7 linked regions of the Homo sapiens genome follow. The protein of the gene in region 1 interacts with the protein of each later gene in a biochemical or structural test. Each region holds a gene or a part of one and is shown in the gene's direction. Other genes may lie near its edges. The genes, in order: SMARCA2, RAP1A, MYB, SDCBP, MECP2, KHDRBS1 and PITX1.

Region 1 (3,500 bases):
AAATGTCCTCCTGTGGTCCCAGCAGAGTGTCCCTGGCTCCCTGGTCAGTCCGCCTTTTCACTGAGGGGACCTCACCCATATTACCGAAAAGGCTGTTTTTAATAATCTGTGATCTGTGTGCCAAATCTGCCTTCACATTGGCTTTTTATTCTTGGAGTGGTTGGATTAGATTTTGGTTTGGGCTTTTTTCATTTATAATAATTCTAGAATGTCACATACTGTGAAATACTAAGTGTGGATGAGCGGCAAAGCTGCTTTAAAACTCACCTGTCAAGAAGCAAGAAGAGAGAAAGCTTACTCATGGAGAGAATGATCAGGCTCATATTTTACATTCTTTTTGCATTGGTGCTTCCCCCATTTTCCTACTGTGGGAAACCCAACATACAGCAGTGAGGAGTTAAGAAGTCACACCCTCACTTGGGTTGTATTAGGATTAATTACCTGTGCAGATCTTGGATAATTGAAGCAATTACTCTTCATTTCAGCTCCAGGGCCTGGAATGGATGGTTTCCCTGTATAATAACAACTTGAACGGAATCTTAGCCGATGAAATGGGGCTTGGAAAGACCATACAGACCATTGCACTCATCACTTATCTGATGGAGCACAAAAGACTCAATGGCCCCTATCTCATCATTGTTCCCCTTTCGTAAGTAAAGTCATTTATTCCACAGTCATCGTTCTGTATGTTGTAGAGTGCCCGATTAGTAGCTTGTCCTTGTTTTTTACTTAAGACAGAATTGTAGCATGTACTAACCTAAATCCAGATTACCAAGAGCATGTAATCTGGATTTAGGTTTTAATTTCCCACCCCTCCCCATCCTAGCCTGTTTGATTGGCTATTTAAGCACGGGACCGAGTGATTTTATCGGCCATCAGCATTACAGGTCTGCACAGCCTGAACACTGCATAGTGAGTCTTGCTCATCATTATTCCTTAAGTGGCTCACAAAGGGGAAAGGTGTGTGTGTGTGTGTGTGTGTGTGTGTGTGTGTGTGTGTGTGTGATTTCTTTGATTTTTTCCTTATTCCATTTCCAAAAGATGATATATTCTTAAATCTTCCTTTTAAAAGCAGAACATAAATCAAAATCATAACTAGGAGTTTTGCATTAAAATAACCTTAGTATGTGCACTGAGGTTATGTTTCAATGAGTTTGCTGCTTAGTAAGGACAGGAGTTTGCTGTTCGCCATTACGTTCCCAGTGCCTCACCTGCTAGGTGGTTCTTAGAAGGTCCTAAGTGGGCACTACCGAGTGAGGGCACAGTGATTCACAAGCACCCTCCTGGGAGTTCAGTGTGTCTGCCTGTGGGTGTTAGGTTGCAGTTTTGTTCACCAAGGTCTTGTTATAGATCTCAATGCTGATATGAACTTGGACCTTCAGTAAGAAGAAGGATTCTATTAATATTATTGTGTTTTCTTTGAATTTTTTCTAATGAAGACTATTTGCAGCCCTTTTTGTATGAATTATCTGTATCTGTAATATTTAGGCATCTTTTGCATTTGATCTATATTTTGCGTGTTCTGAATCATATATACAGTGACACTTTCAGGGCTTTAAAAAACGTCATTCAATATTTCTTCCCCTGTTCCCTCTTGACAGATTTATTTTATGTTTTCATGTGGTTTTATAATTTCTTTTTCCTGACTCATCTTTTTTCTGAACCTATATGGCTGTTTATGAAGATTCCTAAAATCATTCTGGCAATTGCTCTTTTTTAATATCATATTACAGTTTAGTTTTTTGCTCTCTATATTTATGTATTCTTTAGTTTTTTTCTTACAAGATTTTTTTATGAACCACAAACTTGTCATGTTTTGTGACAGTTTGTTTTGAACTTATCTCCTATTTCCACACCTTTAAAATAAATATCTTGTTGAGATATGTTATATTCTGTAGCCCCTTTCAAGGTGAGGCCTGAACATGAATAAGAACATCTTTTTAACCATTGATTTTTATACAAATGTCTTTTTTCTGTTGTTTTTTTTTTTTGTTCCATAGGACTCTATCTAACTGGACATATGAATTTGACAAATGGGCTCCTTCTGTGGTGAAGATTTCTTACAAGGTTTGGAATGCTGTATTTATATATAAATGTGGAAAAGCAAAAAATAGACCCTATTTTCTTCATTCCATATGCACATCTGTGAACTGTATTTGGTTGTAAAGTTTTGTCATGTACATCATGTACTAAACCGTGAGAGTTAATCATCCCAAGAAGATTACTGTAATAAACCATAATTACTTTCAGATAGTGAAATCCAGAAGAAAATTGTTAATTATCATATTGCAAGGTTTCTGATGAGAGTAATACAAATGACAAATATCACACATTCTGCGTGCTGCTGACTGGCTCGCTGTGGGCTGCTACTGTGCTGACTGTTCCTGCAAAGTCAGGCAATTACCCGGATGCCCGGGGCTGCCTGCTGTACTTTCTCAACAGAACTGGAGCCTTTCAGCAGAGCGGTGGGTTCTCTACTACCACAAATTCACTGTCATTTCCATTTCCCTTTGCCCTCCCACTGTCTTTGGTGGGAAAACCTTTCTAAAAAAAGATCTGAAAAGGGTCAAGACGTGTAATTTAGCCAAAACTTCCTCGTGTATAATAGATCAGTCTATGAGAATGTGTGTCTGTGCATTCTTCAGTCACATGTCTGGGCATCATTAAGCTATGAAAAGTGAGAAATAATGCACATATATGTCCATAGGATCATGCATGTATTTTTTTCTTTCCATTCAGGGTACTCCTGCCATGCGTCGCTCCCTTGTCCCCCAGCTACGGAGTGGCAAATTCAATGTCCTCTTGACTACTTATGAGTATATTATAAAAGACAAGCACATTCTTGCAAAGGTATGTTTTTAAAAAATTATTTTCTCTCTAATTAGGACCATTGCACTGGAATGTGAAGTATTGCCCAAGTCAGTAGTGTAATTGGATCCTTAGATGGCTTGTCCTTTTCTTTATTTTTCTAAAATTTTTTCAGAGTTTGATATGTTTTGGTCGTGGATTTGATTTCATGCATGCTGTGTGTGTGTGTGTGTGTGTGTGTGTGTGTGTGTGTGTGTGTGTGTTTATGATTGATCCTGGGGCGGCTCTTGTCTATCCCCTCAGAGTTGATGAGTTTACATCTCTTAAAAAAATTCACCTGGTTGCTTCTGCAACTCTTTTTCTCTCTAACAGCTTTGCACATTCTCGGGAAAGAAATAATTGTTTTTGTTGCCCTGAGATATTGTCAGTGTACCTTCATTCTTCTTGTGCCTTTGTTTCTCCAAAGATGAGCCAGACACCTCTCCATATGGTCTCCACCATATGAACATTTATCCAAGCCGTGGCTTTTGTGGTAGTCTTGTTTCAGGTTTTTCCTGGTGAAATAATAGACTATCATTGTTGGAGTTACTTAAGGTTGTTTCTGTGACTATTTATTTGAAACTGAGAAAGAGGTGTTTCTGTGACTTACATGTCTCCTAATTTTTATGTCCTAAGTTGTTCCTTAGCCACAA
Region 2 (3,500 bases), on another chromosome or scaffold:
ATTCAAGAAATTTATATATTTATAATTGCATATTTTTTAAATCATAGGAGCAATTTACAGCAATGAGGGATTTGTATATGAAGAACGGCCAAGGTTTTGCACTAGTATATTCTATTACAGCTCAGTCCACGTTTAACGACTTACAGGACCTGAGGGAACAGATTTTACGGGTTAAGGACACGGAAGATGTAAGTATTTTTTCTCTCTGTAAGATGTTATGCCATCTCTCTGTGGCCAAATAAAAAAGTGCCTGTTTTCTCTATTAGTAGAGGATTTGGAAGCTATCTACCACATGCCTGAAAGAGCCCCTGTGACCAAAAGAAAAAAATTTAACTTTCAAAATTAACCTCAAAATTATGTGGTGAGATGTTTAGAAAATGAGGACATATGTGATAAAGTACTCATTGTGCTATAGGTTAAAAAGTGCAGTAGAGGAAAAAGAGGAGCCAAAGAATACTTCATAGAAGTGGGACCTGAGTTGAGCTTTGAAAGGTGATGGTTGTGTCAGAAACAGTGTTCAAAGAACATTATTAAGATCCATAGTGGTGTGTTTTTATTTCTAAAATTCCATTGGTATAATTCACACATCACAGTCTACCTCCCGGGCTCAAGTGATCTTCCCACCTCAACCCCCTGAGTAGTTGGGACTACAGGTGTGTGCCACCCTGCCTGGCTGATTGTTTTTGAATTTTTTAGTAGAGACCAGGTCTCACTATGTTACCCAGGCTTGTCTCAGGCTCCTGAGCTCAAGCAGTCCTCCTACCTCAGCCTCCCTGGGATTACAGGCATGAACCATTGTGCCTGGCCAGGATTATATTCTTAAAATAATTTGGCATATCTATGTAGTAGGATCTCTTCCATTTTTTTTTTTTTTTTGTCTCTTCCTTCTTCCTTCGCCTCTTCCCCTCAACATATACTTTTCGTTAGTATTTGATGAAGCTTGCGGTCCCAACTAATGCATTTCAGTTGGTGGCAGATAATTGCTTATTTATTTTTTTAAAAGGCTAAGTAATGAGTATGTTATTGTTCATTTTACGTTTTTTTCTTCCCACAGGTTCCAATGATTTTGGTTGGCAATAAATGTGACCTGGAAGATGAGCGAGTAGTTGGCAAAGAGCAGGGCCAGAATTTAGCAAGACAGTGGTGTAACTGTGCCTTTTTAGAATCTTCTGCAAAGTCAAAGATCAATGTTAATGAGGTAACCTACAACTGCTGGGCAGCACAAACAAGTGCCTTTTTAGTTTGCTTTAAGTTAACAGCCAGACTTTTAAGAAAAAATTTTTATCTTTTAAGCAATCTTGATTCCATAATTTTATAGGAAACACTAAGTAATTCCTGGAAACTATATTTTTTAGCTTGCATAAGGTCACTTTGATGGCTGTATGAGGATACTTAAATTTACCTTATTGTAAAAGAGGAAGCTAAAATTGAAGAATGTGTGTAAAATCCTGCTAAGCCTCTAAGTGATATGCGATAAAGTGGTGTGTAAAAATTGTTACATCACCTTATATTGTAATAATTATTTACCCAAATGTATATAAATAGGTTGTAAAGTCAAGTTGGAAAATAATATGTTTTTATGGATATCACAGAATTGTGTTCTGAGTCTTACCTCACCTTTGGTGCATGACTCATAAGTGGGTAATCTGTGTGGGTATGGACATGTACCTGGAATTCACTCAGTCCTTTAGGCCTGATACAGCTGATGCACAAGGCTTTTGTGTGGGGCATGGGGGTGGGGTCACTGGGTTAAGCACTCCACTATCTTGAAAACAGCTGTGGACAAGAATACTTAGCAAATAAGCTGCATGCCTGGGTGTAAAGGGCCAACAGTTTACTAGTTTACTGGGCCCCTAAAAATTTAGAGCAATTTCCAACTGTCCCCACCAGTCAACCTTAAATAGTTCCCTTGCTTTTGTTAACCTTAACATAAGCCTTTTAAAAAAATAAAAACAACAGAGTGGGCTTCTTTCCTGCCGTTGCTTTTGCCATTTGTAGCATTACAGGTAATCAGTCAGAATTCAGATCACTTAACTACATAGGTGAGAGTGAGAGTGGGTTAAGTTATGAGTCCTCTGTTTTTGCTATTCTCTCTGGCCTGTGGTTCTGCTGGCCACTTTTTCTTGACTAATATTATGCTTATAGACTATTTGACTTTTAAAAATGACCAGGTTACTTTAAACACCTGGCAGGTAAAAAAAAATTAAGCTTGCTTCAACTTCTGTATTTTACAGATAATCAAGAATGCCAAAGCTTGTTTTTTTATGTGAAACCATTTTTAACAAGTACATAAAAACAAGAAATTTATAAATTGTATTTATTCAGCAAATATTTATTGACTATTGTGTGTCTGGCACTGTGTCAGGCCCTCAGGTAACAGTCACTCAGACAGACACTATTCCTGCCCTGAAGAAGTTTGCATCCTACTGGGGGAACAAGTCTTTCAGCAATAATTAAAGAAAAAAAGTGATTTTGATAAAGAATTTGTTAGAAATTGTGAATATGTTTGGCTAGCAGAACAGTGACATGAGGTCACTATCTACAAGATAATTGGCCTTACGGGATGTGGTTCCTTGCTGTCCTTGTCCTTACCTCCATGGGACCCACCAACCAAGTTCATCAGACTCCAGGCTCCGGTGGGGCTGGGTTGGGCCTGAGTCCAGTGCATAGGACTTCTCCCTTTGGGAGCCAGAGGACAGTACACTACATGTTTGTGAGAACCTACATGCTATTAAACTTCCTCTGGATTAGTTTCCAATGCAGCAGAGATACTTTTTCATAGCAGTCTTGTTAAAGCAGAGAGTTTATAAACGAGGGTTTATAAAAACAAACATAGAAAAACCATAAAATGAAATGCATTAGCCATCTCAAGAATCTTTACTTTTTGGAAAACATACAAACTTTATGCTCAGTTCTTGAGAGTGGGGAGAATGGAGCAGATAATTTGAGTTTCTTTTAATATTTTTCTCTTTATAACCCAATAATCCAGCTACAGGATTTCTTTGGTAGTTAATAGTTCCTCACACAACTTTTGCCTTGTAAATTTTTTTGTGAGTTTTGAATGCCTGAAGTATAGAGAGATACTTTCAAAAATTCACCTCTTGGCCTTAAATTTGAAAACAGACACCAGGACATACTGCTTGGCTAAAGAGCCCCCTAATTCATTCATATATATATATATATAATTTTTCAAAAACTCTTATTCACACCACTTTGCAACGTTCTTAAAGTAGTATATGGCTATGCCAGAATCACAGTAGTCTTAATCAAGAATTAATTGTTCTTTGCTGAGGCTGGAATAGTAATTGGAATCAAGACAACCCAATTTAGGAATGGGAGAGGGATTGAGAAACTCTATTCTGTGTTCCCTTTAGATTTTTCTATAGTTCAGAGAGATGAGGAAGAACCTAGGCTGGGGCCTTTCAGCATTTCTAACCAAATATTATAGTTCGAACTTGCCCTCATCACTGAACCATCTGCTGCTGTGAGGTAGGCAATGT
Region 3 (3,500 bases), on another chromosome or scaffold:
GTTTTTTTCTATTATTTTGTTAACCTATATTTTCATATTTTATAATTTCAGACATGATTTGATGCATGTTCAGTATATACATGTAAAAGGTTATATATAAAACCTCTTCATAAATAACATTAGCTGCTCTCTTTTATTTGCATGTGTGAAAGTTATGTGGGCCATTACTGAATTCTGACATCTTTAGCGACTGGGCAGCCAACTGGGATGGCTCCTTGTGCTTTGCAACATACATAGTTAACCAACAAAGACAATAAAAGAGAAGTGATGCCCAGTAGGTATTCCTAGGGGTAAATTTATTTTTTGTTAAATAATAAGATGTTTATGTGCACATGCTAGTTCGACCACTTTTTAACTTTAGTTAATGTTTTGCAATTTCTCCTGTTGTGTGGTCATACTGTAAGGAGACTTCTGTTAATTTGCTCTTCTGCTTTCCTAACCACGTTGATTTGGCAGTGCTTCACTGCATCAGTGCAATCTGTAGCATTAGAAAGGGATAGAAGCAACAAGAATATGTGTAGATCAAAGCAACTCTAACTCCTGAGTCCTCTAGCTTTTTTGTGGTTAGAATGCAAATAGGACAGTTCTTCAGTTCTTCACTCACAGCAAGCATTTATGGACCTTTGGCAAATTATATTAAAGTGGAATTTTAAGACAATATGATAATTATACTTCGAAATATAGACCTATGATTTGACATTTTTACAAAATGATAACAAGGTAATCATATAGGTACAACCTCTAGCACTATTAAAAACAGGGTCTTGCATTGATAAAAGGAAACATCTTGACAACTGTTTCATAGGCGTAAGTTTGGGATGATGCAACTACTCTTATCTTTCCTCCAACAGCATCTGATACCTTGTGCAACTTCATTGCTAAGTTCCTTCTCCCTTTCTTCTGTCCTCTCTTTATTTCTACACCCTTCCCCCTTCCTTAGACACAGAACCACACATGCAGCTACCCCGGGTGGCACAGCACCACCATTGCCGACCACACCAGACCTCATGGAGACAGTGCACCTGTTTCCTGTTTGGGAGAACACCACTCCACTCCATCTCTGCCAGCGGATCCTGGCTCCCTACCTGAAGAAAGCGCCTCGCCAGCAAGGTGCATGATCGTCCACCAGGGCACCATTCTGGATAATGTTAAGAACCTCTTAGAATTTGCAGAAACACTCCAATTTATAGATTCTGTAAGTAGAATTGTGAAGGGAAGTTAACGATTCTGGAAGATAAATTAGAAAACCCATTTCTTAAATCATTGCCATTTTCTATAGCCAAGCTGTTATTAGCATATATTAATGTAAAGGTAGAAGTATGATTTTCATCTTCATGAATATGTTTTTTCAAAGATCTGATTTCATAGCCTACCGAGAGAGACAAAAGTATTTATAAATACTTACAAAATAGGACTTTTGAAGGAAGAGTTTTTTTTCACATTTTCACACTTTTCCTTCAAAAGTCATATTTTTAAAAATAGTCAGATTGATGACTTATAAAGCAGAGCTTGGATTATGGGAACGGAATGGTGTTTGAGTTACTTTTAACTTTTTTTTTTCTTTGCTTACTTCATGGTGCTTCTCTAGAATTTTGTCTTGCTTTTGAACAGCACATTAATGATTTGGCTTACTCAGAGCTGAAAGCAATCTTTTAGTGTATTTGAAGTAATAATCAGCTCCTTGGTCATACCTGGCTCTTTCCACAAAATGGTGATTATTGATTACTGGTCCCATTGCTTCACTGAGATGAATCATCTTTCGTGAAACAAATTTGTATTCAGCACCTCCTCAGCGAACACTTGGTTCCTTTCCCAGTTGATTAAAAATCATTTATTGCACACTCATTGGTTAGGAGATGACCATTGCCGTAATATGCCATCTAGAAAAGGTCTTCATTTTGCTTTCCATTGCATGCAGATGTAGAGTGTCGGGAGGTCCCTGCAGCACATCAGAGGGCCAGCCTTGAGGCAGCCCACTAGACCCTGCTCTACTGCAGTATAATAGAGCAACTGCTCATCTTGAAGCTGTTGCTCAAGAAGCCAAACCAACGGGCCTAGTGTTTGCTTTGCGTTGAGCATCTCTCTCTCAGTGCTGTTTCAGGTGATGATGGCACACACTATCTCAAAGTTCTGTGCCTCCCACATTGTTTCAGGATTCTTCATCATGGTGTGATCTCAGCAGTTTTGAATTCTTTGAAGAAGCAGATTTTTCACCTAGCCAACATCACACAGGCAAAGCCCTACAGCTTCAGCAAAGAGAGGGCAATGGGACTAAACCTGCAGGAGAACCTAGCCCAAGGGTGAACAAACGTATGTTGAGTGAGAGTTCACTTGACCCACCCAAGGTCTTACCTCCTGCAAGGCACAGCACAATTCCACTGGTCATCCTTCGAAAAAAACGGGGCCAGGCCAGCCCCTTAGCCACTGGAGACTGTAGCTCCTTCATATTTGCTGACGTCAGCAGTTCAACTCCCAAGCGTTCCCCTGTCAAAAGCCTACCCTTCTCTCCCTCGCAGGTAGAACACAATTTCTGCACAGCTGTTACTCATTTTCAACAGACACCTGAGCCTTAATAATCTAGAAACTAATACTTCGGAACAAATGACTAATTACTGCTGCCTTTGCTGATTTCATTCTGTCGTTGAATCTAGCTGTTGCTAAGTTATACTGCCTCCCAAAGTTTAGGCTGTCTGCAGGCTAACTGTTGATTTTGGCATCATTCTCTCTCTTTTACTTTTGGGTGGTTTTGAAAGATAGTTGCATGAAACGTACTTTTATTTCCTTCAACACTAGAGTTTAACATTTCTGTCCCTTTCTTTTTCTCCCATCTGATCCCTCCCTTTAAAATTGTTAACATCATTTCTTCCTCGTTGTTCATTTATTCTTATGCGATTCACTGACCCAGGGGAGGAGGGAACCAAATTGTGTTTATATAACATTTGGGTTGCAACTAGAAAATTTAAAGCTAGAAAATTTAAAGGTTCCAATTCATCTTTAAATGGAAGAGTTTGGGAAGAGGATGAGAAACAAATGCTTAAGGAAAAGAACATATTTTTAATTTCAGTTTCTCAACATTGGCTCTTTTGAGTTGTGCCATACTATTTTACTAGTGCAGTTTTTGCCAAGGAATATTTTTATTTCATACAGCTTTTTTAAGGCATGAAAATCACAATTCTTATCAGAGATTTGTGTTCCTAAATTATTTAAATAATTAAATTAATAGATAATTTGGCACTTTAAAACATTTTTCCAATTGTATCTGTTGAATTTGTTTTAAGAACAGATTTAGGTATGATATAGGTATATACATTTGGGAAACACTGAATCAAACAAAGTTACAAGTAGGTTTCTTAGCTGGGCATAGTGGCATGGGCCTGTAGTCCTAGCTACTGGGGAAGCTAAGGCAAGAGGATTGCTTAAGCACAGGAGTTCAAGTTCAGCCTGGTGAACATAGCGAGATCCCATTTCTTTAAAAACTTTCTTTTTTTTAACTGCAGGCC
Region 4 (3,500 bases), on another chromosome or scaffold:
AAGGAAGGTAGTATTCATTTTCTCATCTGCTGGCCTTTAACACCACAGCAAAGCTAAATTACAGCAATGAACCAACCATTCATATTTTGTAAACTATTCTGCAGTAGCCACTAGGCTGTGGCTTTTAGCATCATACAGTCCCTAGACCTTTTTCTCTCCATTCCAAATCCTGACAAGAGCCTGTGGTTTCCTCTACTTATGCAAAGTAAGCTTTTAATAAATAATGATATACAGAACCAGAGCTTATCAGTTTCCTAATATGGTGGGCAGAATTTGGCAGCAGTGACGCTACAAGCATGTTTTTTCCACATCCTTTCTGTTAATGGCAGAAACAATAGGCCCTGGCATGCTCCTTGGGGCACCCCAACCCCTTTTTTTAGTAGTGTCACATTTCAAAGTAAGTTTGAAATAAGTAGCTACATTTAATGGTTTACAGTACTTAAAATTGGGTTACATCCTTTTGTTTCATTTTTACTGCAAATAACATAATTAAATTTAACTTTGCAGGGAGCTTTCTATATGTATTCTTCAGTATTCCTTGGATTAAAAACAATAGCAATGAAAGAACAGAAATTCATAACTACATACAAAGGAGAAGTATTTTAAATTAATAAGCTGTGTTTTAGAGCAATTTTAGATTCACAACAAAATTGATCAGAAAGTACAGTATACCTTCTGTCCTCACACATGCACAACCTCCCCCAGTATCAGCATCTGCACCAGAGCAGTACATCTGGCTCATTAATATCACCTGAAGTCTACATATTTACATTACATCACATTAGGGTTCACTGTTGGTGTTATATGTTCTGTGGATTTTGACAAATGTATAGTGACGTGTATATAGTCATGTGTTGCTTAAAGACGGATATGTTCTGAGAAATGCCTCATTAGACAGTTTTGTCGTGCAAACATTATAGAGTGTACTTCCACAAATGTAGATGGCATAGCCTACTACACATCTAGGCAGTATGGTATAGTCTGTTGTTCCTATGCTACAAACCTGTATGATCCCACCTGTATGATACAGTAATACTGCATGTTACTGTACTGAATACTGTAGGCAATTGTTACACAATAGTATTTGTGTATCTAAACACAGAAAAGGTATGGTAAAAATACAATGTAAAAGATTTAAAATGGTACATCTGTATAAGGCACTTACCATGAATGGAGCTTCCAGGACTAGAAGTTGCGCTGGGTAAGTCAGTGAGTGAGCGGTGAGTGAATGTGAGGCCTAGGACATTATTGTATACTGCTGTAGACTTTATCAATACTCTATACTTGGGCTGCACTAAATTTATTTAAAAATTTTTCTTTCTCGAATTATAAATTAACCTTAGCTTCCTGTAACTTTAATTTTTTAACTTTCTGACTCTTGTAATAACATAGTTTAAAACACAAACATTGTACAGCTGTATAAAATATTTTCTTTCTTTATATCCTGATTCTATAAGCTTTTTTCCTATTTTTTAAATTTTTAGTTTTTAAAAATCGCTTGTAAGTTTGTTAAAAACTGAGACACACACTCACATTAGCCTAGGCCTGCACAGGGTCAGGATCATCAATATCACTGTCTTCCACCTCCACATCATCCCACTGAAAGGTCTTCAGAGGCAGTAACATGCATGGAGTTGTCATTTCCAATGGTAATAGTGCCTTCTGGAATACCTCCTGAAGGACCTGCCTGAGACTGTTTTACAGTTAACTTTTTTTGTAAGTAGAAGGATATACTCTAAAGGGTATAACACAGGAAATACATAAATGAGTAACATAGTCATTTATTATTATCAAGTATTATGTACCATGCATAATTGTAGATGCTATACTTTTTTATATATGACTGGCAGTGCAGTAAGCTTATTTACACCACCATCACCACAAAGTAATGAGTTGTTCTGTGTGACGGCAGCTATGATGTCACTAGACAGTAGGAATTTTTTAGCTCTTTTATAATCTCATGGGACCACTATTGTATATGTGGTTCATCATTGACCAGAACAGGCAGCACATGACTGTATACCATTGTAGCATTAGACAGAATAGGTTCACTGCTCGAAAAATTCTTTAATGCCTGTTCTTCCTTCCCTTCTAGAAACTCCTGGCAACCAATAATTTGCTTTTGCTTTTGTGTTTTCTTTAGCGTCAGGATGTCGCTCTGTTGCCCAGGCTGGAGTACAGTGGCACAGTCATGGTTCACTGCAGCGTCCATCCTCCTGCCACAGCCTTCTAAGTAGCTGGGACTACAGGCATGCACCACCACACCTAGCTAGTTTAAAAAGAAAATTTTTTTTTCCCCCAAAACGGAGTCTGGCTCTGTCACCAGGCTGGAGTGCAGTGGTGCGATCTTGGCTCACTGCAACCTCCTCCTCCTGGGTTCAAGCAATTCTCCCTGCCTCAGCCTCCCGGGTAGCTGGAATTAACAGGCATCCACCACCATGCCCGGCTAATTTTTGTATGTTTACTAGAGACAGGGTTTTGCCATGTTGGCCATGACAAACATGACAACATGCCATGTTGGTCAGTTGAACTCCTGACTTCAGGTGATCTGCCCACCTCAGCCTACCAAAGTGCTGGGATTACAGGCATGAGCCACTGTGCCTGGCCAAAACAATTTTTTGCATAGGCAGGGTTTTCCTATGTTGCCCAGGCTGGTCTTGAACTCCAGGCCTCAAGCAACTCTCCAGCTTCAGCTTCCCAAAGTGCTGGGATTAAAGGCCTCAGCCACTGTGCCTGGCCTAATATTTTATTATCTCCACAATTTTGCATTTTTCAAAATGTCGTATAGTTGGAATCATAAAGTATGTAGCCTTTTGAGATTGGCTTCTTTCACTTAGTAATATCCACTTAAGTTTCCTCCATGTCTTTTCATGTCTTTATAGTTCTTTTTTTTTTCCCAGTGCCGCACAGTATTTTTTTTGTTAGACATGATTCAAGAAGTAATATAACAAGCCACTAGCTCCTTTTAGCTAATCGGTGGTGAAAGAACTTTCAAAGTTCAACACATGTTCAATTTGTGGATTGTTATTTATAATTATAAAGATTTTCATGCTGTATTTTGTTTAAATCTAGAATGTTTAACAAATTATGAAATAATAAATATTAAAGGATGACTCAACAAGTATATCAGAACATATAATTTTAGTACCATTCAAAGCTTTCATAGGCTTTACTTATTTAAACTAAGCTTTCATATCTCCAAGCATCTTTGGGAATACTCTTGACATTGATTTTAGGGCTAGGTTGAGATACTACTATGAACTTCATTTTTAAAATGATACATTTCCAATAAAGTAAAAAGTTGGTAGAGATTGGTCATACAACTTATTACCAAACTTGTCTCTAATGACATATAGCTATTTCAGAAAGTCAGATCTAATTGTAAAGGATAAAGTATTTCCATCAGTGAGATACTTCATATGATGTAGGCCATCAAGACAGCCCTGAGAAGAGGATACTTGAGCATGAGTAGCATTGATAAATGCTAGAGTGTCAGAGTG
Region 5 (3,500 bases), on another chromosome or scaffold:
CCACAGGCATGTCCCATGTGAGCTGCTGCCATGAACTGTCAAGTGTGTGTTGTCTTGTGTATTTCAGTTATTGTCCCTGGCTTCCTTACTATGGTGTAATCATGAAGGAGTGAAACATCATAGAAACTGTCTAGCACTTCCTTGCCAGTCTTTAGTGATCAGGAACCATAGTTGACAGTTCCAATCAGTAGCTTAAGAAAAAACCGTGTTTGTCTCTTCTGGAATGGTTAGAAGTGAGGGAGTTTGCCCCGTTCTGTTTGTAGAGTCTCATAGTTGGACTTTCTAGCATATATGTGTCCATTTCCTTATGCTGTAAAAGCAAGTCCTGCAACCAAACTCCCATCAGCCCAATCCCTGATCCCTGATCCCTTCCACCTGCTCTGCTGATGACCCCCCCAGCTTCACTTCTGACTCTTCCCCAGGAAGGGAAGGGGGGTCAGAAGAGAGGGTGAGTCCTCCAGAACTCTTCCTCCAAGGACAGAAGGCTCCTGCCCCCATAGTGGCCTCGAACTCCTGGCACTACCAAAGGACACTTATCCACGAGAGCGCAGCATCCGACCAGGTTGTCACTGAGAAGATGTTTATTTTGGTCAGTTGGGTTTTTATGTATTATACTTAGTCAAATGTAATGTGGCTTCTGGAATCATTGTCCAGAGCTGCTTCCCCGTCACCTGGGCGTCATCTGGTCCTGGTAAGAGGAGTGCGTGGCCCACCAGGCCCCCCTGTCACCCATGACAGTTCATTCAGGGCCGATGGGGCAGTCGTGGTTGGGAACACAGCATTTCAAGCGTCACTTTATTTCATTCGGGCCCCACCTGCAGCTCCCTCAAAGAGGCAGTTGCCCAGCCTCTTTCCCTTCCAGTTTATTCCAGAGCTGCCAGTGGGGCCTGAGGCTCCTTAGGGTTTTCTCTCTATTTCCCCCTTTCTTCCTCATTCCCTCGTCTTTCCCAAAGGCATCACGAGTCAGTCGCCTTTCAGCAGGCAGCCTTGGCGGTTTATCGCCCTGGCAGGCAGGGGCCCTGCAGCTCTCATGCTGCCCCTGCCTTGGGGTCAGGTTGACAGGAGGTTGGAGGGAAAGCCTTAAGCTGCAGGATTCTCACCAGCTGTGTCCGGCCCAGTTTTGGGGTGTGACCTCAATTTCAATTTTGTCTGTACTTGAACATTATGAAGATGGGGGCCTCTTTCAGTGAATTTGTGAACAGCAGAATTGACCGACAGCTTTCCAGTACCCATGGGGCTAGGTCATTAAGGCCACATCCACAGTCTCCCCCACCCTTGTTCCAGTTGTTAGTTACTACCTCCTCTCCTGACAATACTGTATGTCGTCGAGCTCCCCCCAGGTCTACCCCTCCCGGCCCTGCCTGCTGGTGGGCTTGTCATAGCCAGTGGGATTGCCGGTCTTGACAGCTCAGTGAGCTGGAGATACTTGGTCACAGCCAGGCGCTAGCACAGCTCCCTTCTGTTGATGCTGTATTCCCATATCAAAAGACACAGGGGACACCCAGAAACGCCACATCCCCCAATCCATCAGTGCCAAACTAGCCAACGGCCCCAGCTTCTCAGCTCGCTGGATGGCGGAAGCTGCTACTCGTGAGCGCCAGTGCGGGTGCAGACAATCTTCTGTTGGGTGGCATCATTCCAGGCCCGAAGCATGAACAGTGCACCTGGGACAGGGAGCAGCCCCAAATTGTCACCTGCTTCTCTGCCCAGCTTTTCATTGCTGTGACAGTGATGGCGAAAGAGGGTAATAACCAGACACAAACTGCCAAGTTGGGTGGAGAAAGGAGTTTCTTTAGCTGACAGAATCTCTGAATTTTAAATCACTTAGTAAGCGGCTCAAGCCCAGGAGGGAGCAGAGGGATACGAGCGGAGTCCCCTGCGCGGGACCATCTGGAATTGGTTTAGCCCAAGTGGAGCCTGACAGCCAGAACTCTGTGTCCCCCGTCTAACCACAGCTCCTTTTCCAGAGCATTCCAGTCAGGCTCTCTGGGCTGACTGGGCCAGGGGAGGTTACAGGTACCAGTTCTTTAAGAAGATCTTTGGGCATATACATTTTTAGCCTGTGTCATTGCCCCAAATGGATTCCTGTTTCAAGTTCACACCTGCAGATTCTAGGACCTGTGTCCTAGACTTCAGGGAGTCAGCTGTTTCTAGAGTTCCTACCATGGAGTGGGTCTGGAGGACCTGCCCGGTGGGGGGGCAGAGCCCTGCTCCCTCCGGGTCTTCCTACTCTTCTCTCTGCTCTGACGGGATTTGTTGATTCTCTCCATTTTGGTGTCTTTCTCTTTTAGATATTGTATCAATCTTTAGAAAAGGCATAGTCTACTTGTTATAAATCGTTAGGATACTGCCTCCCCCAGGGTCTAAAATTACATATTAGAGGGGAAAAGCTGAACACTGAAGTCAGTTCTCAACAATTTAGAAGGAAAACCTAGAAAACATTTGGCAGAAAATTACATTTCGATGTTTTTGAATGAATACGAGCAAGCTTTTACAACAGTGCTGATCTAAAAATACTTAGCACTTGGCCTGAGATGCCTGGTGAGCATTACAGGCAAGGGGAATCTGGAGGTAGCCGACCTGAGGACATGGCTTCTGAACCTGTCTTTTGGGAGTGGTATGGAAGGTGGAGCGTTCACCAGTGACCTGGAAGGCCCAGCACCACCCTCCTTCCCACTCTTCTCATCTTGACAGAGCCTGCCCCAGCGCTGACGTGTCAGGAAAACACCCAGGGAACTAGGAAGGCACTTCTGCCTGAGGGGCAGCCTGCCTTGCCCACTCCTGCTCTGCTCGCCTCGGATCAGCTGAGCCTTCTGAGCTGGCCTCTCACTGCCTCCCCAAGGCCCCCTGCCTGCCCTGTCAGGAGGCAGAAGGAAGCAGGTGTGAGGGCAGTGCAAGGAGGGAGCACAACCCCCAGCTCCCGCTCCGGGCTCCGACTTGTGCACAGGCAGAGCCCAGACCCTGGAGGAAATCCTACCTTTGAATTCAAGAACATTTGGGGAATTTGGAAATCTCTTTGCCCCCAAACCCCCATTCTGTCCTACCTTTAATCAGGTCCTGCTCAGCAGTGAGAGCAGATGAGGTGAAAAGGCCAAGAGGTTTGGCTCCTGCCCACTGATAGCCCCTCTCCCCGCAGTGTTTGTGTGTCAAGTGGCAAAGCTGTTCTTCCTGGTGACCCTGATTATATCCAGTAACACATAGACTGTGCGCATAGGCCTGCTTTGTCTCCTCTATCCTGGGCTTTTGTTTTGCTTTTTAGTTTTGCTTTTAGTTTTTCTGTCCCTTTTATTTAACGCACCGACTAGACACACAAAGCAGTTGAATTTTTATATATATATCTGTATATTGCACAATTATAAACTCATTTTGCTTGTGGCTCCACACACACAAAAAAAGACCTGTTAAAATTATACCTGTTGCTTAATTACAATATTTCTGATAACCATAGCATAGGACAAGGGAAAATAAAAAAAGAAAAAAAAGAAAAAAAAACGACAAAT
Region 6 (3,500 bases), on another chromosome or scaffold:
AATTTTATAAAAGTCAGCTCTTCCTTGCTTAAATAAAGTGTGCCCCCCACAAACACACACTCATCAAGAGACAATAGGAAAAGCATGAAATTAGAAGTTAGAGGCCTGGCGCGGTGGCTCACGCCTGTAATTCCAGCACTTTGGGAGGCCAAGGTGGGTGGATCACCTGAGATCAGGAGTTGAAGACCAGCCTGGCCAACATGGTGAAACCTTTTTTCTACTAAAAATACAAAATTTAGCTGGGCGTGGTGGCAGATGCTTGTAATCCCAGCTACTCAGGAGGCTGAGGTAGGGAGAATTGCTTGAACCTGGGAGGCAGAGGTTGCAGTGAGCTGAGATTGTGCCACTGCACTCCAGCCTGGGCGACAGAGTGAGACTTCGTTTCAAAAAAAAAAAGTCAGAAAAGGCCTAAAGGCCTGAGTTTGGGGGTTTTCTAAAATTTTTTATTAATTTTTTTTTAGAGACAGGGTCTTGTTCTGTCACCCAAGCTGGAATGCAGTGGCGCCCATTATGGCTCACCACAGCCTCCAACTCCTGGGCTCAAGTGATCGTCCTGCCTCAGCCTCTCTAGTAACTGGGACAACAGTTGTACGCCACCACACTGAGCTAATTTAATTTATTTTTTTTTTTTTTAATTTTAGTAAAGATGGGATCTCACTCTGTTGCCCAGGCAGGTCTCAAGTTCCTGGGCTCAAGCAATCCTCCCACCTCGGCCTCCCAAAGTTCTGGGATTATAGATGTGAGCCCCTGTGCCCAGCCAGGCGTGGGTTTTTAATTCTTGTTCTGTTACTTTAACAATTTTATGACCTAGAGATAGTTATTTAACCTCTTTGAGTTTTTGTTGCCTCAGATGTAAGTAACTCAGTTCACTGAGTTATTTTTGAGGATTAATGAGGTAATAGTTCTATGGTATTTGATATATAGTAGGCATCAAATAAATATTCAGCCCTACCTGGGTAAGGTGGCACGCACCTTTAGTCCTAGCTACTGGGGAGGCTGAGGTGGGAGGATCACTTGAGCTCAGGAGTTCGAGGCTGCAGTGAACTATGATGGTGTCACTATGCTTCAGCCTAGGCAGTAGAGAACCCATCTCTTTAAAACAAACAAAAAAAAAGGCGGGGGGAGCATAGTAGGTCACGCCTATAATCCCAGCACTTTGGGAGGCCGAAGTGGAAGGATCATTTGAGCCCAGGAGTTCAAGACCAACCTGGGCAAAATAGGGAGACCCCATCTCTACAAATAAAAAAAATTAGCCAGGCATGGTGGCACGCGCCTATGGTTGCACCTACTGGGGGTGCTGAGGTGGGAGGATCGCCTGAACCCAGGAGGTTGAGGCTACAGTGAGCCATTATTGTGCCACTCATTCCAGCCTGGGTGACAGAGTGAGACCCTATCTCAAAAAAAAAAAAAAAATTCGGCTCCTCCTTTTTTTTTTTTTTTTTTTTTTTTTTGAGACAGAGTCTCGCTCTGTCACCCAGGCTAGAGTGCAGTGGCACGATCTCAGCTCACTGTGACCTCCGCCTCCCGGGTTCAAGCAATTCTTCTGTCTCAGCCTCCCAAACAGTTGGGACTACAGGCACACGCCACCATGCCCAGCTCATTTTTGTACTTTTAATAGAGATGGGGTTTCACTGTATTGGTCAGGCTGGTCTCGAACTCCTGACCTCAGGTGATCCACCCGCCTCAGCCTCCCAAAGTGCTGGAATTACAGGCATGAGCCACAGCGCCTGGCCCCCTCCACCCTTCTTGAAAGCTCGAGTAGCTTCTTAGTCTTCTGCTTGCTTCCTTTTCTTCCCTCTCCCTCTCCCTTCATCCCCTCCCTGCCTCCCTTCCTGCCCCCTCCCTTCTTCCCTCCCTCCCTTCCCTCCTTCCTTCCTCCCTTTCTCCCCTCTCCCCTCCTCTCTCCCTTCGATACCCAAGCTGGAGTGCAGTTGCACAGTCATCATAGTTCACTGCAGCCTTGAACTCTTGGGCTCAAGCGATCTTCCCACCACAGCCTCCTGAGTAGGTAGGATAATAGGCAGGTACCACTACACCCAGCTAATTTAAATATATATATATATTTATTTATTTATTTATTTATTTATTTTTGGTAGAGACAGGGTCTCGCTGTGTTGCCCAAGCTGGTCTCAAGCTCCTGGGCTCAAAGCAGTCATCCTGCTTCAGCCTCCCAAAGCACTGGGATTACAAGCGCATGTGCCACTGTGCCCAACCAGTCCTTTGCTTTGTAGGTTAAAATTCTGATTCTCTTTTCAACCCTCTGTTTTATTTAAATGATCCTTCTCTGAATTCTCTAAAAATGCTTTCCTTTGCTTTTTTGAGACAGGGCCTTACTCTGTCACCCAGGCTGGAATGCAGTGGCATGATCTTGGCTCACTACAGCCTCCAACTGCTTATCCTCCTGCCTCAGCCTCCCAAATAGCTGGGACCACAGGCGCATACCACCATGCCTGACTAATTTGTTATTTTTTATAGAGAAGGGGTCTCACTATGTTGCCCGCTCTGGTCCCAAACTCCTGGGCTCCAGTGATCCTTCTGCCTCAGCTTCCCCAAATGCTGAGATTACAAGTGTGAGCCACCATGCCTGGCCACTGCTATTCTTTAAAAAGTTGTGAAATAATTGGACAGAAGGATTCTAAGATCTGAGTAGTTCAAAAATAGAAGAATCCATGTTATAGAAAGGTCTTATACTATCACACTGGTCTTTAAGAAATGAAAAAATGAAAGGCCTTAAATTCACAGAGTGCATTACATTGCATATAAACACACCTTCTTGTAGGAGTATAGCAGATGAACAGACTTTGAATCGTCTTGCACTGACCAAGGTTTCTGGAAAGTGGTATAAAATACAGCTGAAAGGTCTAACTCAATGGTAGCCCTCGGAAGCACAAAGCGACATAGATAAAATGAAGTATCTAATTTGTTCCACATTCTTTTTTGTTGTTGTGATGGAGTCTTGCCCTATCGCCCAAGCTGGAGTGCAGTGGCGCAATCTGAGCTCACTGCAGCCTCTGCCTCCCGGGTTCCAGCGATTCTCCTCCCTCAGCCTCCTCGGTAGCTGGGATTACAGGTGCACACCACCACGCCTGGCTAATTTTTATATTTTTAGTAGAGACGGGGTTTCCCCATGTTGACCAAGCTGGTCTCGAATTTTTGACCTCAGGTGATCCGCCCACCTCAGCCTCCCAAACTGCTGGGATTACAGGCGTGAGCCAACGCGCCCGGTCTATGTATATATTTTTTTAGTAGAGATGGAGTTTCACCACGTTGGCCAGGCTGGTCTCGAACTCCTGACCTCAGGTGATTTGCCCACCTTGGCCTCCCAACGTGCTGGGATTACAGGCATGAGCCACCTCTCCTGGCCTGTTCCACATTATTAAAAGCTCCTTGGTGATGTTCTCAGATCAGAATTATGGCATCTTTGTTCTTCTAGGACTTTGAGGATTGAATAACTAAGTTTTCCAGTCTGAGAACTTAGAAAGTGGTGTAGTCAGGTACAG
Region 7 (3,995 bases), on another chromosome or scaffold:
GGCCGCCTCTGCTGCAGCCCTCCAAAGCTTAGACCCACAAGCAGAACTTCACTCTCCCACCATTCAGACCTGCTCCCTCCCTCCACCGGAGATCCCCACCTTAGGCCCTGGCCCACTAGCGTCTGCCAGGCCTCCAGGCGCCTCGGACCTTCAACCCCTTTGACCCTCATCCTACCTGATCCTCGGACTAAGGCAACCCCAGCCCAAAGACCTGTGCCCCCAGGGGACTCCCCCATGCCCTATGGGGCCCAGGACCCACTCAGATGTTAGCAGGATACCCTGGGCCAGAGACTGGGCAGTGGATTCCCTGCCGCTGGGGACCTCGGGAGCTGTTGGCCTTATCCCGAAAACGAAAGGGAAAGGCAGGTCCTGTCTGGCTGCCTCGGAGAAGCCTGAAAGGTGCCTGGGTTTGGGGCTCTCAAAACTTCCTGGAGCAGTGGTCCCATCTCATAAGCAGATTCTCTAAAAGCTCAAGATATTCTCCACCCTCCCCAGCCATCAGTAGGACCCTTTGCCTTCTGCCCTTTCCGGAAGGTCTCCCGTCAGGTGAGGTGGGGGGTGGCTCCGGGAGCCAAATGTCCTTCCCAGTCCCTTTTAGGATATGCCATCTCAGACCCAAGACCAGCCTGCATTCTCCCTCTTCTCACCCGTTTGGTTTCCAGTAAAAGCAAGGCTTTCCTGCCAGGGTAGCAAGAGAATCATTTCTTCCCTGGGGGCGTAAATATTTAATCAGATATTGGGAGCACCTCCCAAGTCGACCAAAATCCCAGCTGGCCCACAGACTCCTTACCATAACCCCAGCCCTCACCCCTCCCTAGGCAGGCTGGCCAGCCCAGTGGGACTTGGAATGAAGACACAGCACTCAGTAATCCTGAACTCACTAATCCTGCCCAGGTTTATGGTGGTAGGGGTGGGTGGGGGTGGAATCAGGTAGTGTCAGTGCTGGGGACTAGGGAAAGCTGAGAAGCAGGGATCTGGCAAACTAGCTCAGGAAACTCCACTCAGAACTGGAGGAAAATCCGAGTGGGCAGAGGGCATGCGGTAGGCAGATAGGTAAGGATGGGGGAGGACTAGGAGGTTCTTACCAAATTTGGGGGGAGAAAAGGAAGGGCAGGAAGATTAGAAGAATCTAGTAAGAATAGAAAAAATTTAAATATTTGTGGAGAAACATATTTGGCATATATTTAGGCGGCAGGAAAGAAATTAAATAGGAAGCAAAAAGATCAGGTATTTGAGAAAAAGAATCAACTGTTTAAGGGGAACAGTGCAGGTCAGATATTTGGAAAGGATTCAAAAGCCTAATATTTGAGGACGATTCAAAAGGATCAAAAATGGGGGATAAACAAGAAAACAGACTGAGGGAGAAGAAAGAGGTTCAGACAGTGGGGTGGACTGAACGAAAATAAACATTTGGAGCCAAAAAGAAAACATCAAATATTGCCGATAAAGATGATAACAAACTATTTGAGCGATGAAATAGATCGAAGAATTGGGGGAGTCGGAAAGTCCTATGTCTCAGGGAGGAAAAATACCTTTTGTATTTGAGGGAGAATAAAAAGACTGAAATATTTAGTAGATAGAGCGAACCTGTTTGGGGGAGAAGGCAGAGGTGAACTGGTTGAGAGAGGAAGAAAGAAAACGAATATCTGTTAAACGAGAATCCGTATTCGGAGAAGAAAACGGATATAATTTCGGGAGAGGATAAAGATCGGAAAAAGAAATTAGTATTTTCTGGGGACAGGAAAGGAACCATTGTGGAGGGAATGCAGGAGCGGAAATATCGGTCGAAGGAGAGAAACGACGTTCGGAGGGCAGCGGGCCGACGGAAGGCTCCAGGCGGTGGGGAAGGGGGTGGGGTCCCTCCCGGCCCGCAGCGGCCCTGACCCTTCTCCCGTCCCCTCCCCCAGGTCTGGTTCAAGAACCGGCGAGCCAAGTGGCGTAAGCGCGAGCGTAACCAGCAGCTGGACCTGTGCAAGGGTGGCTACGTGCCGCAGTTCAGCGGCCTAGTGCAGCCCTACGAGGACGTGTACGCCGCCGGCTACTCCTACAACAACTGGGCCGCCAAGAGCCTGGCGCCAGCGCCGCTCTCCACCAAGAGCTTCACCTTCTTCAACTCCATGAGCCCGCTGTCGTCGCAGTCCATGTTCTCAGCACCCAGCTCCATCTCCTCCATGACCATGCCGTCCAGCATGGGCCCAGGCGCCGTGCCTGGCATGCCCAACTCGGGCCTCAACAACATCAACAACCTCACCGGCTCCTCGCTCAACTCGGCCATGTCGCCGGGCGCTTGCCCGTACGGCACTCCCGCCTCGCCCTACAGCGTCTACCGGGACACGTGCAACTCGAGCCTAGCCAGCCTGCGGCTCAAGTCCAAACAGCACTCGTCGTTTGGCTACGGCGGCCTGCAGGGCCCGGCCTCGGGCCTCAACGCGTGCCAGTACAACAGCTGACCGCCCCGCCGCACCACGCGGGCCGGCGGCCGGAGCGGGGAAGGGCGCGGGCGCGGGCGCGGAGGACGCACGCGGGGCCCCGGCTCGCAAGCCCCAGCTCACCGCGCCGCGGACCTCACACCTGCGCAGCCCCCTCCTCCCACTTCCCACTCCGGGTTGGTTTTGTGTTTGCTTTTCCGGACCCCACTCTGCCCTCCAAAAAGACAAAAAAAAAAAAAAAAAAAAAAAAGCAAAAAGACGTCGGAGAAAAGTGCCGCGAAAAAATGGATGAGTTGCAATTTCTCTCGGGATGGCGCGGGTGGTGTGTGTGTTCCCACGGGCCCCGGAGGCCCACTCCGCGGAGGGCACGCGGCGCGGTAGGCGAGCGCCGAGGCCCAGCGGCCGGGGGAGGACGACCTCGTATCCCGCGTCCCCGCCGCGCTGGATCCGGACTGAGTGGCCGGGCCTGCGGACTGGATGTGCGGGGCCTGGACTTGCCTAGGATTTCCCGACCCCGTACAAACCAAGTTGCCCTCTCCGAGCTAGGCCCGGCCGAGAGCGCCTTAGCTCGAGTCGGATCCGTGTTGGGGCGGGCGTTGGGTTTGGGGGGACGGTGCCCCCAGCCCAGGATCGGGCACTCAGTGGAGCCGCACACGGCCCCGGCGCGCCTGGTAGAGCCTCGCTGGCCCCGCGCCCCGGAGCCCTATATTAAGGCCACGGAGCGACAGCGGGCAGTGCGGGCCTGGCGGGAGGTGGGGGAGGTCCATCTCAGAACACCCCAGCCTTGAGCTTAGCTGCAGGCCCAGGCCCTCTGCTCTGCTCCCGGGCTAGGAGGTGGCCCTCTGTCTGGGCGAACAGCCCCCTCCTCACCGCCCGCCGTGCAAGAGTCGAGCCGGCAGAGCAAGGGGCGCGGCCCCAGGGCCCTGCGCCCACTTTGCACACCCGCTCTCCGGCCCGCGCCCCTGTTTACAGCGTCCCTGTGTATGTTGGACTGACTGTAATAAATCTGTCTATATCGACTTGTCCATGTACGTCTATTAAAACCATAGTCCGAGCGTGCTAAGCACTGCTGAGCCCCGACTGCTTCATTGGGCTGAGGAGGGAGGCGGATAGAAAGGGAACTGTGGGTAGAAAGGGAACCGGGCCCCTTGGGTAGGAGCAGAGCGCCGAGGCAGCCCCCGCCGAGGTCTGCCTACCCCGCTTCCCCACCACCATTCTTGACCTGCTCAGCCTGGCTCCCATGAGGGCACCGTCCTGCGTTGCGAGCCTGTCCGGTGCGCACCCGCTAAGCTGTGCCTCTCGGCGTTGTCCGCGGGACGCCTTAGCGAGAACCCCCTCCCTCCGCGGCTGCGGGACTCTACGGGTTTCTTCCCAGGCCGGGTCTGCGGTGACCCTCGAGGCCCCAGGGTGCTATGGGGCCCTTGCCTGCCAGGAGCGTTCGGGCAGGGGCTGCTGAGAGCCTCTTTATGCCTGGGGTTGCCTTTTCTTCTGTGGGCCCAGCAACAGCCCCTCTTCTCTCCTCGGAGCCAGGGCCAGGCTATTCCAGGAGGACTGAGGGGGCTGGAT

What was found.
Region 2: the proteins of SMARCA2 (region 1) and RAP1A form a complex in vitro, tested with the Homo sapiens proteins (one study listed by BioGRID).
Region 3: the proteins of SMARCA2 (region 1) and MYB form a complex in vitro, tested with the Homo sapiens proteins (one study listed by BioGRID).
Region 4: the proteins of SMARCA2 (region 1) and SDCBP interact in a surface display test, tested with the Homo sapiens proteins (one study listed by IntAct).
Region 5: the proteins of SMARCA2 (region 1) and MECP2 form a complex in vitro, tested with the Homo sapiens proteins (one study listed by BioGRID).
Region 6: the proteins of SMARCA2 (region 1) and KHDRBS1 form a complex in vitro, tested with the Homo sapiens proteins (one study listed by BioGRID).
Region 7: the proteins of SMARCA2 (region 1) and PITX1 form a complex in vitro, tested with the Homo sapiens proteins (one study listed by BioGRID).

The regions. Positions count from the first base shown.
Region 1 is NC_000009.12:2,081,347-2,084,846, forward strand, and holds part of SMARCA2 (SWI/SNF-related matrix-associated actin-dependent regulator of chromatin subfamily A member 2), read left to right. Parts: intron 1-485; coding exon 486-649; intron 650-2,000; coding exon 2,001-2,067; intron 2,068-2,739; coding exon 2,740-2,850; intron 2,851-3,500. UniProt on the Homo sapiens protein: ATPase involved in transcriptional activation and repression of select genes by chromatin remodeling (alteration of DNA-nucleosome topology).
Region 2 is NC_000001.11:111,703,289-111,706,788, forward strand, and holds part of RAP1A (ras-related protein Rap-1A precursor), read left to right. Parts: intron 1-47; coding exon 48-188; intron 189-1,054; coding exon 1,055-1,198; intron 1,199-3,500. UniProt on the Homo sapiens protein: Counteracts the mitogenic function of Ras, at least partly because it can interact with Ras GAPs and RAF in a competitive manner. Together with ITGB1BP1, regulates KRIT1 localization to microtubules and membranes.
Region 3 is NC_000006.12:135,194,808-135,198,307, forward strand, and holds part of MYB (transcriptional activator Myb), read left to right. Parts: intron 1-152; exon of another isoform or gene 153-274; intron 275-940; coding exon 941-1,195; intron 1,196-1,918; exon of another isoform or gene 1,919-2,101; intron 2,102-2,153; coding exon 2,154-2,516; intron 2,517-3,500. UniProt on the Homo sapiens protein: Transcriptional activator; DNA-binding protein that specifically recognize the sequence 5'-YAAC[GT]G-3'. Plays an important role in the control of proliferation and differentiation of hematopoietic progenitor cells.
Region 4 is NC_000008.11:58,566,761-58,570,260, forward strand, and holds part of SDCBP (syntenin-1), read left to right. Parts: intron 1-3,500. UniProt on the Homo sapiens protein: Multifunctional adapter protein involved in diverse array of functions including trafficking of transmembrane proteins, neuro and immunomodulation, exosome biogenesis, and tumorigenesis.
Region 5 is NC_000023.11:154,024,718-154,028,217, reverse strand, and holds part of MECP2 (methyl-CpG-binding protein 2), read left to right. Parts: 3' UTR 1-3,500. UniProt on the Homo sapiens protein: Chromosomal protein that binds to methylated DNA. It can bind specifically to a single methyl-CpG pair. It is not influenced by sequences flanking the methyl-CpGs.
Region 6 is NC_000001.11:32,023,868-32,027,367, forward strand, and holds part of KHDRBS1 (KH domain-containing, RNA-binding, signal transduction-associated protein 1), read left to right. Parts: intron 1-3,500. UniProt on the Homo sapiens protein: Recruited and tyrosine phosphorylated by several receptor systems, for example the T-cell, leptin and insulin receptors. Once phosphorylated, functions as an adapter protein in signal transduction cascades by binding to SH2 and SH3 domain-containing proteins.
Region 7 is NC_000005.10:135,027,234-135,031,228, reverse strand, and holds the end of PITX1 (pituitary homeobox 1), read left to right. Parts: intron 1-1,907; coding exon 1,908-2,450; 3' UTR 2,451-3,495; downstream 3,496-3,995. UniProt on the Homo sapiens protein: Sequence-specific transcription factor that binds gene promoters and activates their transcription. May play a role in the development of anterior structures, and in particular, the brain and facies and in specifying the identity or structure of hindlimb.